Regions from separate parts of the Homo sapiens genome. Here region 2 is linked to region 1. The links come from fine-mapping of genetic effects on gene expression. Tissue or cell type: whole blood. Region 1 holds a variant in brackets; the other region holds the start of a gene. All regions are shown on one strand. Distances are from middle to middle.

What was found. PIP is the estimated chance that this variant, and not a neighbour inherited with it, causes the effect.
Region 2: it holds the start of TMC4, and the variant in region 1 is fine-mapped to the expression of TMC4 in whole blood (Lepik 2017, PIP 0.95).

Annotation. Positions count from the first base shown.
Region 1 is chr19:54,135,007-54,137,759 of GRCh38, reverse strand. No RefSeq gene overlaps it. Among named protein-coding and RNA genes, the nearest start is that of CNOT3, 1.4 kb to the left of the region's middle. The variant C/AC (reference allele first, on the strand shown) is at 1,340.
Region 2 is chr19:54,171,725-54,174,224 of GRCh38, reverse strand. It overlaps TMC4 (transmembrane channel like 4), which reads left to right and starts at 1,065. Exons shown (of 15, transcript NM_144686.4): 1 at 1,065-1,186; 2 at 2,142-2,355. The coding sequence starts at 1,108. It overlaps MBOAT7 (membrane bound acylglycerophosphatidylinositol O-acyltransferase MBOAT7), which reads left to right. Exons shown (of 8, transcript NM_024298.5): 8 at 1-810. The coding sequence ends at 181. RefSeq lists enhancers at 1-125, 126-942.

The sequences.
Region 1 (2,753 bases):
CGGCGGCGGAGGAGGCCTCCCCTCCTCTCTTCTCGTCTCTGGCGCCGACCCGCCCCCGAGTCCCGAATATAGGCCAGTCATTGCTCCCGCTGAACGTCGCTCCTGACCCTTGGAGGCTTTCTATTGGTTCCTGGCAGGGATGCGCCCTGCCCCCTTTCGCGGATTGGGTGATCGCTCCAAGGCGCGGCGTTCGATTGGCCTCCCGCGCAGGCTGCTAGGATTGGCTCAGGTTTTCCTCCCCGCTCCTCCTCCTCCTCCCGCCTCAGGGCACAACACGCCAGCGCGAGGACCCGAACGTCAATCAAGAGACCTGTGTCGTGCTGATTGGATGTATCCGCCCCCCTCTCTTAAAACAATTGGTCTGGGGGAGGAGCTACGACAGTCCAGGGGCGGGAAGTCGTCCGTCAAGTTTAGAGCTCTTTTTAATTGGTTGCGGGGGCATATTCTGCCTTGAAGTCATTGGTTGGTCCTGGAAGTGGGTGGGGAAAGCGGAGGAAGGCATGGAGTGTGGGCGTTAGGGGCCGCGTACCTAATGGGAGACAGACAGGTGCCTTTAAAGCGGGGGCCGAGCCGAAGTCATCTGCCAATCAAAACAGCCACAGGGCCAAGTGGGAGGAGCTGGGCAAGAAAGTCCACCCCTTTTTCTTCGTTGGCCCTAAAAGTTATCATTCATGCTAGTTGGACCAATAGCGTGGCGAGTGGGCGGTAGCTGCTCGTAGAGCGTGTGAAAGAGGGTGTATGTAGCTGGCAGAAGTGGGACTTGGTCGCAACCGTTGCGTCCCGGCCAGGTAAGCAGCTTCCCTCTCAGCTGCCTCGTCTTTCTCCAAGTGCCTCTATGTTGGCACATCTCTGAAATTCATTATTTGCTGAGTGAAAGAAGAAAGGGACCAGAGACACTGCTTTAAGTCTCTGGCACCGTGCATAGCAGAATTGGTTGGGAAGCGTGAGGCATGGAGTTTTTGTCCTGCCCCTGCCTGGTTAGGCGACCAGATGGTGGGACAGTCATTCTCCTCTGCGTCTCCGCTTCCTTAGTGTGTTGAGGACGCTGCAGAAGGTACAGAGGAGACGGGTGGCTCCCTAATGCCTGCTCGTTTCAGGTCTCAGCTCTGTTGTCTTCTTGGAGAGAAAACTTCCCTGACCTCCCTCCCGGGCGGAGCGCTCCTGCGCGCCTTGTTCGTTAGGATTTATTTTTGTACGTCTACCGTCATTTTCGTAATTATTCGGTTTCCCTGTCTGGATTTTGCATCTCCAGCACTTAGCACGCAGGAAGTAGTCAGTAACCATTTGTCAAAGGAATAGATGAATGAATGTGAGGAATGACTTGTGATTGAAAACTTAA[C/AC]TAGACACTGAGACTTCCACGAACTGGGAGGCATTTGCCCAGGGTCACACAACCGAGATGGGAAGCCAGATTCGCCCCTTCCTGTCTAGGTGGTGGAAAGTAAGATAAATCCCAGGGAGAGGTGAACGTGAAGGAGGATGGAGCCGTTCAGCACCACCCGCATCAGAATGGTCTGAGGCAAGGGGGAGGAGGAATGCTTGCGAAAATGCATATTCGTAGGCCCACACACAGACAACGGGAATGAAGCCTAGAGTTATTGTTCTAGAGCTTTGCTATTCAAACTGTGGCCCCTGGACAAAGTATCGCTTCTCAGACATCTCCGGAATCACCTAGGAATGTGTTAAAATGCAAATTCTGCTTTTCTAACAAGTGCCGCAGTCCACGGTCCGCAGTTCACTTTGCACACCGCGGATCTAGCGATGACTTTCCAACTTGGCTGCACATCAGAGTCACCTGAGGAACTTGTTGTTATTGTTGTTGTTGTTGAGACGAAGACTTGCTCTTGTCCCCCAGGCTGGAGAGCAGTGGCACAATCTAGGCTCACTGCAGCCTCTGCCTCCCGGGGTTCAAGTGATTCTCCCGCCTCAGCCTCCCGAGTAGCTGGGATTACAGGCGCCCGCCACCACGCCCGACTAATTTTTGTATTTTTAGTAGAGACGGGGTTTCACCATGTTGGCCAGGCTGGTGTCGAACTCCTGACCTCAGGTGATCCGCTCGCCTCAGTCTCCCAAAGTGCTGGGATTACAGGCGTGAGCCACTGCGCCTGGCCTACCTGAGGAACTTTAAAAAAAAAAAATTTTTTTTAAATTAGAGGCCAGGCCGGGCCGGGAGAATCACTTGAACCCGGGAGGCAGAGGCTGCAGTGAGCCTAGATTGCGCCATTGCACCTGTAATCCCAGCACTCTCAGAGGCCGAGGTGGGCGGATCACCTGAGGTAGGGAGTTCAAAACCAGCCTGGCCAACATGGTGAAACCCCGTCTCTACTAAAAATACAAAAATTAGCTGGGCATGGTGGCATGTGCCTGTAATCCCAGCTACTCGGGAGGCTGAGGCGGGAGAATCACTTGAACCTGGGAGGCAGAGGTTGCAGTGACCCGAGATTGCGCCATTGCACTCCAGCCTGGGTGACAGAGCAAGACGCCGTCTCAAAAAATAAAAATAAAAAATAAAAAAGTCCAGATACCCAGGCTTACACTGGACCAACTAAAACGATCTTGAGGTGGGAGCCAGTGTCTCTCTCACCCAGGCTGGAGTGCAGGGGCGCCATCTCGGCTCACTGCAACCTCTGCCTCCCAGGTTCAAGCCATTCTCCCACCTCAGCCTCCCAAGTAGCTGGGATTACAGGCGTGAGCCACCGCGCCCAGCGTAAGAGCCGCTTACAGAGTCTTCTTTTCTAGAGCAGTGCTTCTGAAAT
Region 2 (2,500 bases), 37 kb before region 1:
CTTCGTGCTGCTCTCCTTGGCCGACACCCTTCGGTACTGGGCCTCCATCTACTTCTGTATCCACTTCCTGGCCCTGGCAGCCCTGGGGCTGGGGCTGGCTTTAGGTGGGGGCAGCCCCAGCCGGCGGAAGGCAGCATCCCAGCCCACCAGCCTTGCCCCGGAGAAGCTCCGGGAGGAGTAAGCTGTCACGACGCTCCCTCTGCCAGCTGGTCCCGGGAATTCTGTGAACCAGGCTGCTGTCTCCTCCCCAGAAAGAGTCCTTACCTTGGAGAGGGTCCTGGAGAGAATTTCCTCTTCCCCAGCTAAATACCCTGCCTGCAACTGAAGCAGACCCGGGGGTGTCCTCCCTGCCCTCTGCCCAGAGGCCACCTCCACTCCTACAAAATCAAAGTATTGTCCAGACAAGAGTCACTGGCCCCTGCTCCAGCTTCTGGGTATCCAGAGAGCACTGCACTTCCCCAAAACGGAAGGGGCCCCTGGGCAGTGGGTTTTGGGCAAATTCCCTTTCTTTGCATCCACAATGTGGGGTCGGAGCTTGGGGGCAGGTCCTGGGAGTGGGAAGCCTCTTCCTTGTGTCTTTCGCTCCACTTTTAGCTCATCGCACCAATATTGCAGACTTGGAAGGAAGCATAAGCTTCCCATTTCACAAAGGGGAAACTGAGGTGCGGGTGCGCGGGCCTGGGGACGGCCGTCCCATGGCTTCCATCTGAGCCACCTCGGGACCCCAGCACTCCTGGCGCCCTCTTCTCATCGCTTGGCCTATGACAGGTCACCGTGTGTAAATCTTTCCCAATAAAGTGTTGCACAAAGGCATCGTGTCCGTGCAGGTATCTGGGTGATAAACGGTGGGAAGGACTTAGTCCACCAAGTCCCAGGGTGAGGTACAGCCCCCCCGCCCAGCCCAGGAACCAAACTGTGAGGCCCGGGGCACCACGGGGACTTCAGCTCCCAGGAGACCTTTCGCATCAGCGGCCCTGAGAAACCACAGGAAGTGTACCTTACTCCCTCCGGGCCACCTGCTGGCCAGGTACACACCTGCCCCTGGCCCCTCCCTTACCTGGGGCAGTGTCTGCCTGGTGGCCACTAGAGACAGCCCAGCCTGGGGCCATGGAAGAAAACCCGACCTTGGAATCAGAAGCCTGGGGCTCCTCTAGGGAGTGGCTGGCCCCCCGGGAGGCCAGAGGAGGTAGGGAATGCCAGGAGAAGCTCAGATCCATCCGACCTTCAGGCTAGGTGGGAGTCCTGCTGGAGGAGGAAAGGGGAGGCCTGGCCTCCTGAGTCTGAGGGCTAAAGAGAGAAGGTTCCACTTCCTGATATTATGGGGGAGAAGGGAACTGGAGGCTGGAACTCCAGGGTCTGAGGAGGAGGAGCCTGGAGAACCAGGCTAGTCTGGGAGGAGGGGAGGGCTAAGGGCTGGGAGTTTGGGTGTCTTGGGAATAGGAGAGGCTGGGTTCCCACACTCCTGAGCTAGAGGGAAAAGGAAGTTAAAGCCTGGACTCCACTGCCCTGGAGTAGGAGGGTTCCACGCTTGGGGATGGAGTTGAGGGCTGTGGACCCCTGGGTCCAGGGGAAGTAGAGGCTGGCACCCGGACTCCTGGGCCTGAGGGAGGAGGGGCTGGGAACCTGGTTTCCTGGTCTGAGGGAGGAGGGGCTGGGTGCCTGGATTCCTATGTCTGAGGGAGGAGGAGCCGGGGGCCTGGACTCCTGGGTCTGAGGGAGGAGGGGCCGGGGGCCTGTTCTCCTGGGTCTGAGGGAGGAGGAGCCGGGGGCCTGGACTCCTGGGTCTGAGGGAGGAGGCGCCGGGGGCCTGTTCTCCTGGGTCTGAGGGAGGAGGAGCCGGGGGCCTGGACTCCTGGGTCTGAGGGAGGAGGAGCCGGGGGCCTGGACTCCTGGGTCTGAGGGAGGAGGAGCCGGGGGCCTGGACTCCTGGGTCTGAGGGAGGAGGAGCCGGGGGCCTGGACTCCTGGGTCTGAGGGAGGAGGAGCCGGGGGCCTGGACTCCTGGGTCTGAGGGAGGAGGAGCCGGGGGCCTGGACTCCTGGGTCTGAGGGAGGAGGGGCCGGGGACCTGGTTTCCTGGTCTGAGGGAGGAGGAATTAGGGCCCAGACTCCCGGGTCTTCCCAGCCCCCTGCTCCTCCCCAGGCCCATCGCTGTCTTCTGTGCTGAACGAGCTGCCCAGTGCTGCCACCCTTCGGTACCGAGACCCTGGGGTGCTGCCTTGGGGGGCGCTGGAGGAGGAGGAGGAGGATGGAGGAAGGAGCAGAAAGGCCTTCACAGAAGTCACCCAGACAGAGCTGCAGGACCCTCACCCTTCCCGGGAACTGCCCTGGCCCATGCAGGCCAGACGGGCACACAGGTGAGGCCCCACCTCCAGCTGGGACCCGCACAGCCCGGACCGGGCCCTTCTCCCATACCCTGGACTCGGTCTCCTCCCTCTGTCCTCTGCCGCTCCTGGCTTCTGGGGCCTCTCTCTGCCCCGCTCAGAGCTGCCTCTCTTGGTT